Linked DNA regions of Homo sapiens: region 1 is linked to region 2. The links come from fine-mapping of genetic effects on gene expression. Tissue or cell type: regulatory T cells. Region 2 holds a variant in brackets; the other region holds the start of a gene. All regions are shown on one strand. Distances are from middle to middle.

Region 1 (5,152 bases), 930 kb before region 2:
AACAGTAACTATACTATGGGTGGGAATAAAGTAATATTGAAGTTTAGAACTTGAGTTCCCGTCTGGGAGATCAGAGATGACTTCATAAACAAGAAGGCAGTTGAGCTGAGTTTTATTATTTTATTCTTATTATTTTGAGACAGAATCTCCCTCAGTCATCCAGGTTGGAATGAAGTGTCATGATCTCGGTTCATTGCAGCTTCAGCCTCACAGGCTCAAGTGATCCTCCCACCGCGGCCTCTAGAGTAGCTAGGACTACAGGTGCACACCACCACATCTAGCCAATTTTTTTTGTGTTTTTTTTTTTGTTTGTTTTTGTTCCTCGTAGAGACCAGGTTGTGCCATGTTGTCCAGGCTGGTCTTGAACTCCTGGGCTCAAGCAATCTGCCCATCTCAGCCTCTCAAAGTGCTAAGATTACAGGCATGAGCCACCCCGCCTGGCCTAGAGCAGAGTTTTAGAGAGTGGGTAAGATTTCTGCAAATATTCTCTCTTATCTGCAAATCTCAGATGCAGGTAACAATTATTCCAGAAAGCAGAGACTAGGTACTAATAAAGGTAGTATAGTCAAAGCACATTCAGAGATTGGAGCCACTGGACAACAAGAAAACAACTGACATAGGAAAATATACTGCAGTTGCAAATAAGGTAAATTAGGGCAAAATTATTTCATTTTATTCAGTAATGCAAACATTTATTTATTCAACAAATATTTTCTTAAGTATTTGAGTATCTACTAAGTGCACGCACTGTGCTAGGTGTCAGCATATTTATGAGTAACTCAGAAAAAGGCCCTTTCTACTATGTAAACACTAAAAAAAGTAACTCAAATCAGGGATGATAGCACGACTGATTCTTATCAGTCACTGAATCAATTAATCTCTGGCAACGAGGGGTACTTGAGTTTGCAACTGCTGCCCAGAACCTGGAATTTAACGTTTTTGGGAGACAGCCGGTATTTCTAGATTACACTGTGTCTCAACTTCAATTCAATTGCTTCTCAACTCACTATTTAAATTAAAATGAAGTGTTAACTTTTTTATATTAGAAAGCTGCAAACCTGTATGATAATCTTGTAGGTAGGGTGATGAGGGACATAATATTTGTGGCTCCATTTTACAAGTTTTGGCTGATGTAATAATTTTGTTAGCATGCATTAACTGAAATAAAGAAGGAAAAACAGACTTAAAAGAGACATCGGTGGGTGGGTTTTGTTTTGTTTTTGATAAAAGAACTCTTATAGAAAAGGAATCGCTGCAAATTTCTTTTAGCTAGCTAGCTCTCTGGGCGATTAAAATGATTGATACATTTCTAGAACACATGCACCGAGATACACCTGCACTCGTACTTTGTCCGTCAAAACAATCTTTGTTTTCTCTCAAGCTAGGACTTGCTGTGCCTAAGACACACCTCGTGCAGCGGTGGCGGTGAAGGTGCTGGGGTGACAGCCAGGAGGGCACTTTCCCTTTCTCGGGCTCCCTAACCAAAACTTTGCAGCCACCAGCCCAAACTCACGTTCCTGCTCGTTCTTCTTTCCCCTGCCTCAACTCTCCCCGCACCCTTCGCGCTCTGTGCGCCCACCCCTGCTTCCGTCGGTCAGCTTCAGCCGACCTACTACTCAACCTACCGGCCCGCGCCCTCCGCCTCCACCTGCACCACTCGCCCACCCCGAGAACCCACCTCTGCCGCCCCCGGCCCGCGCGCCCCGTCGCGGCCCGGGGCTCCGGGGCATGCGCGTTGCGGCGCCACCGCCCTCCCCCACGCCTTCCCGCGGCAGAGTTATGCCAAGTATGTGAGGAGCCGGCGAGGGCCAGCGCCGGTCATGGGGAGCCGCCGCCGCCTCCGCCTCCGCCTCCGCGAGCGCGGTTTTCTCCCCAGCGGGGCTCCGACCTCTCCCCCTGGCGGGGGTGAGCCTCGCGGCTAAGGCAGAGGGGATGGCGGACCCTCTGAGGAGGACGCTGTCCAGGCTCCGGGGAAGGCGGGGTCCCCGCGGCACCGGGGGGCTAGGGCTCCGGGCGGCAGCCGCAGCTGCGGTGGCGGCCTCTTCGGCAGCCGCGGGAGACGCCTGGGGTGCCGCAGACACCCTCCCACGTGAGCACGCCGGGGGACACGGGCGGAGCCTACAGCAGCCCTCGCCGTCACCTGAGGCGTGGGGTCCCGGGGCGCGGGTCCCCGGAGGGCACCCGGAGCAGTTGGGGGCGCTCGGGCCTCGGCCGCGCGGCGGGCAGGAGGCCGCCCCCCAGAGCCATGGGCTCGCTCACGCCCCTCCGCACTCCCCGGAGGGCTCCGAGGACAGCGGAGAGGAGGAGGAAGACGACAAGGACGAAGACGACTACGACGCCGACTACTACGAAAACCTGCCCGGCGGCTCGCAGTCTGCGCCCGAGCCTGAGGGGGCGGAGGCGGAACGGCGTCCCCCGCCTCCCCCAGCGGCGGGCTCCTCCCTGGGGGCGGAGGGCGGCCGCCTGGAGACAGGCAGGCTGCGGACCCAGTTGCGAGAGGCCTATTATCTGCTGATCCAGGCCATGCACGACCTGCCCCCTGACTCGGGCGCGCGGCGGGGCGGCAGGGGCTTGGCGGATCACAGCTTCCCCGCGGGAGCCCGGGCTCCGGGCCAGCCGCCTTCCCGCGGCGCCGCGTACCGCCGAGCCTGCCCCCGGGACGGGGAGCGGGGAGGCGGCGGACGCCCTCGGCAGCAGGTGTCCCCGCCCCGGTCGCCTCAGAGGGAGCCGCGGGGAGGCCAGCTGCGGACTCCTCGGATGCGGCCGTCCTGCAGCAGAAGCCTCGAGAGCCTCCGGGTGGGTGCCAAGCCGCCTCCCTTCCAGCGGTGGCCGAGCGACAGCTGGATCAGGTGCGGCGCGCACCGGGACTGGGACGAGCCCCCGCCACGTGGAGGCAGGATGGACGGCTGGAGTGGGGACCGCGCCCGGGCGGCTGCACCCACCGGCCTCCAGCCTCCAGGCTGCAAGGACCACGGCTGCTCCTCGGGAAGCCCTTTCAGGGATCCAGCGGGGTCCTCTGTGATACGCAGTGGCAAAGGAGACCGCCAGGAAGGCCCCTCCTTCCTCAGGCCGCCGGCAGTGACAGTCAAGAAGCTGCAGAAGTGGATGTACAAAGGGCGTCTGCTGTCCCTGGGAATGAAGGGTCGTGCCCGTGGGACGGCTCCCAAAGTCACAGGAACGCAGGCAGCCTCCCCAAATGTGGGCGCTTTGAAAGTGCGTGAAAACCGTGTCCTGTCGGTGCCTCCAGACCAAAGAATTACGCTGACAGGTAGGATACTTTGCGATGAAAATGCTAGCACCGCGAGCCTTACTGTTTACCGACTGGGCTTCTGTCTTAAGAGCCAAGAAAAAGTTATGTTTTTGCGACAGGTACGTTACCGGGCGAAAGTAAGTGTCATGTAAGTGGCAGCTTAAAGTAATTTCGGGGTTACTTAATGTAATGCATTTACTCGTTTTGCTTTTTTTTTTCTTTTTAATCAGACAATGGCATGAAGAATTGAGGTTGTGATTTCTTCTCGAAAAACCAGTGTGTCTATTCCCTAAGTATTACCTAAAGGAGTAAAGGTTAAGTATAACACACTTTTAGTAGGTTTACAGATGGGCGGCACTGTCTTGATTTTTATTCTTTGTAGCTCTAGGCAAATCCGTAGACTTTTGTGGAGTTTGTAAATTTGAATTTGATTCAAGGTAGATTTTATAGGCTTCATAAACTGTCATTTTACTCATTACAACTTTTTTTTTTTGCCTCTCCCAGGCACGCACACACATGCATACATACACACAACCAAAAACCCAAACAAATCAAACAAAAAAAACCCTACCATAAGTAGAATTTTTTAGTCAGGTAGTATTTCACATACACCATCTCTCCACCTGCCTCCCCCCGACAAAGAAACCTCAACAAAGTAATCTTTTTATTGTGAAAAATCAAGGACACTAACATTTTAATCAAAAGAAAAATGTTCCTCAGGTAGTTTTGTTTTTAAAGCAGTCATTTGCAAACTTAAATCCTATTTATAAGAGAAGTAAATTAGTTTTTTAAAAAGTATATTGATCCTTATAATAGGATTAAGCTCCCTATTTTGTATGTGCATGATTTTTAACTATCACTGAAGGTTTAGGTTATCAATTCTAGAAACCAGTCAATTATGTTGTAAATATCAAAATATCTTTCCTGAAAGGAGTATAATATCTTCAAAGTGAGCCAAAACAACATGGTCTTTTGAATACTCTTACATATAAAAATTTTTAGTGATCATAAAGACTTATAAGTCAGGAATAATTTGGAAAACATTAAATCCTGAAATGTAAAAGGTATTCACAGTACTTGGCGGTTTCTCTGGTAGTAATTATAAATCCTACAGGACTGGATTTATACACATTAACTTTGTTTAACCAATAAACACACAACAGTGGGGAGAAACAAAGTTCACAAAACTTCTTATCAAACAATGAAGACAAATCAAATGATTCATTCAAAGTGTGTGCCAACTTGCAAAGTTTTTTCCTGTCTATACGGCTCTAATACACACCTGTCAAATTTTATTCTCAAGGTTAAATATTCCATTTCACTTGAACAAAAGGATAATAGAATGTAAATTCTTTGTTGAGAGGTGTACTTTATACTAAGTTCATATTAAACATGCATTTCCAGGAGTAATTTGTAATCATTTATTATATTTTATTGCCACAATATTTTTACCTCCCCCCCTTTGGCTTAGTTTTAACTCTTGGTACCATAGTTGAATTTCAGCCATAACAAAAAATAGTCAAATATTTTTCACCCTTTTGTCACAGAGCTAAAACACTTACCATGTGATGGCTTTTAATGCCCTCAGTAGTAAACATTCAAGGATTTTTAAAGTAATAAATATAGTTCCTTTAAGAATGAATTTGATTTTTGCATTAAGCAACTAATTAAATGAAACTGCTAACTTAGAAATTAAAATGAAACAATTATTATGTGATAATATTTTAGATATTTTATGAGAAATCTAAGCCAAAGCTACCATAATCTCTGGTTTAAACAACTCTCAGATGTTACTTCCTTTTAAACCACTAATTCATTTTTCAGGAGAGATGAAAATAATTTGTGCAGTGTTTACATATCTAGTATAGATTTGGAGAGCTTTTTAAAAAAATTATTTTTCAT
Region 2 (5,152 bases):
ACCACACCCGGCTAATTTTTTGTATTTTTAGTACAGGTGGGGTTTCACCATGTTGGCCAGGCTGGTCTCAAACTCCAGACCTCAGGTGATCCACCGGCCTTGGTCTCCCAAAGTGCTGGGATTACAGGCGTGAACCACTGCGCCCGGCCTGGATTAGCCTTCTTAACTTACATTGACTTGCTAAACCCCTCTTTGCTTCCTCTCCAGGCACTCCTCTCCTTTAATATCTCCCTTTTAAGTGACTGTTTAATGGGGCTTTTCTGCAGCCCACATAACTGGAAGTGGTGATGCTGCACATTCTGAGCACCTGCTAAGCCTCCCTCTAAATTCTAGACAGTTGATGCCAAGTCTCCATTCAGTACCTTGAGTAGGATTCTGCACTCCTCACCCCTAGACTGTGAGGATTCAACATGAATGATTGCTTTTTTAACCCTTTTTGTATTTTTATTGACTGGTTAGACTTTGGGCATTTAATTCCCTGTGATGCAAACTCTCTCAGTTGTACATACTTAAGTCTGTCCATATCTCACTGAATTACTGACTCAGTCAATATAGTTTTGGTTGGCTTAACCATGGAACCTGTTCTGTTTGCTATCTCTAACTATCTTTTCTCCCTAACAAGGAAACCAGGAAGTTGGGGGCAGGCAAGTATCTGGTACATTCAGTGACTAACTTTCTTCTCTTTCCTTTTTTAATTTAGTATTTTATTATGAAAGTAATACATGCTCATCATCAGTAAATGGTTCAGAATTGGGGGATTTCCCAATCCCATCTCCTGCCAGCAGTGTGTTAAGTATTCTTCCAGTTGTTCTCTAGTCATTTACTAAAAACAAAATAAGATGAAATAAAATAAGGCAACATAAAAATCACACAAAACACACTGTATACACAAATAGAATACTACCAAAAACACTATTGCGTAATTTGACCTTTTTCATTTAATAATTATTGTGATCATTTTCTATATCAGTATATTTGTCCATTTTTTTTTCCAGATGTTTATTTCTAATGAATTGGACATTACATTTCCAAAGTTATAAGATGGCCAACAGACCATGAAAAGACAATTATTTAGTCTCCTGCTTGAAACCAACAGCTTCAGCAAACTGCTGGCCTTGAATCAGGACCAACCATTCTTTTTAATACATACGGAATACTTTTACTAGAACATTCTGGCTTCAAGGTATAGCAACCCAACTCATATACTACTTTAAGCAAAAAAGATAATTTATTGGTTCACAAGAGTAGGAGGAAGAGATGTGGGGTTGACCTTGGAAGGTATCAGTCCAGGGAGCCAGTGGTGTCATGGGGATGCCCTTTCTTTCCATTTCCAGATTGGTACTAATGATTTGTTTGGTTTCCTTCTTTTCTACAGCAAAGCATACTTATTTCATGCAATAGGGACAGAGGGTCACTCCTGCTGATATCTTCTTTTGCATCATCTCACATCTACCTACCTACTGGTTGGATGATCCTAAGCTAATTACCTCACTCCTCTAAACTGCAGCTGTCACATAAGCAGGTATTCTTGGGCTCTCTCTCCTTAGCTCTTTCTTGTGGTCCAGCCAGAATCGTGCCAGGTGTGGAAACTGGAAGTCTAGAAAGAAAAGTTTCCCACTGCTCTGATGCAGGTCCTCCTCCTGGGTGAGGAAAACAACAACATCCTTGAACCTAGGGCAGCACCTTGGTGTCCATCTCCTCTTGCCTGTGCCTGGTCTTGGGATATTGGTGCTGGGCCTTCATTTTATTGGGTGCACCTTTGAGAGTAGATGAAGAGCTACCAAATTATAAATCCCTGATTGGGTGTCTCTCTTAATAATGAACAGCTTAGGAACCCTTCTACCTTGTTTCTGGGGCCAAGGCTACTCTTCTCACAGGAGTTTCCAGAGTTATGTTTCATTCTTATAAAATTATGCTTCAGAAGCCATAATACATGGGTGCCCACTGGTGAGGATTTCTTAAGATAAAGATCCTGGGCTCTACCCCTTGAGACTGAATCAGTAGGTCTGGGGTAAGGCCCAGAATTTATACTTTAAAAAAGTAACACACCAACTTTCAGTTCCAGTCTGGCATGTAAGAAGCTTGGAAGTTGTCACTCAGCCCTAACAACAAGTAAAAAGCTGAATAAACCAGGCACAGCGACTCTCATCTGTAATCCCAGCACTTGGGGAGGTTGAGGCGGTTCCAATCACTTGAGCCCAGGAGTTCAAGACAAGCCTGGGAAACATGGTGAAACCCCATCTCTACAAAAAAATACAAAAATTAGCCTGGTATGGTGGCGCACACCTGTAGTCACAGCAACTTCGGAGGCTGAAGTGGAAGGATCACTTGAGCCCAGGAGTTGGAAGTTACAGTGAGCCATGATAGTGCCACTGCACTCCAGCCTGGGTGAGAGGGTAAGACTCTGCAACAACTCTTTTTAGATCTCTAAGAGAGGTTAGATTATAGGGCAAACTGCTGTCCCCCAAATTGGAGAGACCAACAGGGGAATACAGAGAATCACAACTCTGTGAGCAGGAAACCATGAGTAGTAACCTCTGCAGCAACCGGTGCCCATGTAGGAAAATCTTAACTGTAATTGATGAATTGCTGGAGGCTGAGTGTGGGCAAGTCAAAAACTCCAGGGGGACTCAGTCATTAGGAGACCCCCACATTTTTGTGTTTTACCTTTAGAAGCTCTACCACACCCCCACAGTGAATATTGGAGAAAAATCCTGTCATGCTTCTGCCAGGGGAAGGGGAAAAGAACTATTTAAAAATACACCAGAACACTCTGTTCTTCTGAACGTGGTCTGCTCTTAGGAGGAACTGCTTAGCCAGAGCCTAAACTTCAGGGGTTTTACCAACGCCTAACTGACCTGGAAGAAGGGAAATACCCAATTCTAAGTAAACTAGGAATAGAGGGAAATTTCCTCAACTTGATAAAGAATATCTGAAAAAAACAAAAA[CA/A]AAAACAAAAAAAACCCAAACACCCTACAGTTAACATCATACTTAATGATGAGAAACTTGAAGCTTTCCCATAAAACCAGGAGCAAGGCAAAATGTTTCCTCTCTCCACTGCTTCTGAAGAGCAGATGAAAAATTCTAGATAATACAGCAAGAAAGAAAAAAGAAATAAAAGCTACAGATTGGGAGGGAAATAACAAAACTGTCTTTGTTTGCAGATGACATGATTGTCTATGAAGAAAACCTGAAAAAAATTGGCAGAAAAGTCTCCTGGAGCTAATAAGTAATTATAGGAAGGTTGAGGAATACTAGGTTAATATACAAAAGTCAATTGTTCTCCAATATACCAGTGTCTTAGTCTGTTTTATGCTTCTACAACAGAATACCCAAGACTAGGTAATTTATAAAGAACAGAAATTTATTTCTTACAGTTCTGGAGGCTGAGAAGTCCAAGGTTGAGGGGCTTACATCTGGTGAGGTCCTTCATGTTGTGTCATCCCACGGTTGAAGGCAGAAGGGCAAGAGAGCATGTATATAGAAGGAAAAGGAAGGAGAGGGCAGGGGGGAGGGAAGGAAGAGGAGGTGGGAGGGAAGGAGGGAGGCGGAGGGAAAGGGAGGGGAGGGGAGCCAAATTCATTGTTTTATTAGGAACCCTAACCCACAAGAAGCATGAATCCATTCATTAGAACAGAGCCCTTCATGTCCTAATCACCTCTTATAGATCCCACCTCTCAGCACTGTTGCAATGGGGATTAAATTTCTCTTCATAATATATTCAATCCATGACAACCAGCAATGAACAAATGAAATTTGAAATAAAAAAAAGTATTTCCCCAAAATAAAATATGTATAAATCTACCAAAATAAATACAAGATCCATGTGAGAAACACTGAAAAACTTTAATGAAAGATATCAAAGAGGAACTAAACAAATGGAAAAATACTACGTGTTCGTGGATGGGAAGATTCAATGTTGTCAAGATGTCAGCTGTTGCCAACTTGATCTATAGATTCAGTGTAATCAAAATTAAAATCCCAGCGAGCCATTTTGTGGAGATTAACAGGTTGATTCTAAAGTTCATCTGCAGAGACAAAAGACCCAGAAGTGCCAACACAACATTGAAGAAGAATAAAGTTGGAGGACTGACACTATCTGACTTCAATAGTTAATATAAAGCTATAGTCATCTAGACAGTGTGGTATTGGTAAAAGAATAGACAAATAGATCAGTGGAACAGAATAGAGAGCTCAGAGATAAACCCTGCAGATAGTGTATGTCAAAGGAGCAAAGGCAATACAATGGAACAAAGAGTCTTCAACAAATGATCCCAGAACAACTGGACATCACATACACACAAAAAATGAGTAAGACACGACCCTTACTTTCTTCACAGAAATTAACTCAAAATGGATCGCAGACCTAAATGTAAAATGTAAAACTGTAACACTCCTAGAATGTAATGAGACAGGAGAAAATCTAGATGAGTATGGGTATAGTGATGACTCTTTAGATACAACACCAAAGACATAATCCATGAAAGAAATAATTGATAAACCAGACTTCACTAAAATTAAAAAACTTCTGCTTTACAAAAGACAATGTCAAGATAATGAGAAGATAATCCAAAGACTGGGAGAAAATATTTGCAAAAGACACTTCTGATAATGGACTGTTTTCCAAAATACAAAAAAAACAAAAAACAAAAAACAAAAGAAAACCTCTTAAAACTCAGCAATAAGAAAACAAACAACCCAATTAAAAAAATGGGCCAAAGATCTTAACAGACACCTTACTAAAGAAGATATGCACATGGCAAATAAGCATATGAAGAGATGTTCCATATCATATGTCATCAGGGCAATGCAAATTAAAGCAACAATGAAGTACCACTACATACATATTAGACTGGTCCAAATCTGGAACACTGACAACACCAATTGGTGGTAAGGATGTGGAGCAACAGCAACTCTCATTCATTGCTGGTGGGAATGCAAATTATACAGCCACTTTGGAAGATAGTTTTGTAGTTTCTTACAAAATAAACATTCTCTTACTATATAATCCAGCAATCATGCTCTTTTGGTATTATGTCTACACATAAACACGCATATGGATGTTTATGGCAGCTTTATTCAAAATTGCTAACACTTGGAAGCAACTGAGATGTCCTTCGGTAGGTGAATGGATAAATAAACTGTGGTACAT

Evidence for each region. PIP is the estimated chance that this variant, and not a neighbour inherited with it, causes the effect.
Region 1: it holds the start of SYDE2, and the variant in region 2 is fine-mapped to the expression of SYDE2 in regulatory T cells (Schmiedel 2018, PIP 0.92).

Annotation. Positions count from the first base shown.
Region 1 is chr1:85,198,368-85,203,519 of GRCh38, reverse strand. It overlaps SYDE2 (synapse defective Rho GTPase homolog 2), which reads left to right and starts at 2,504. Exons shown (of 7, transcript NM_032184.2): 1 at 2,504-3,268. The coding sequence starts at 2,524. LOC124904207 (a long non-coding RNA gene) reads left to right here and starts at 3,278. Exons shown (of 2, transcript XR_007066199.1): 1 at 3,278-3,369; 2 at 3,481-5,152. RefSeq lists a silencer at 1,616-2,765 and an enhancer at 2,778-3,389.
Region 2 is chr1:84,273,299-84,278,450 of GRCh38, reverse strand. It overlaps LOC124904808 (small nucleolar RNA SNORA2/SNORA34 family), which reads right to left and starts at 1,130; the gene lies at 994-1,130. The variant CA/A (reference allele first, on the strand shown) is at 2,949.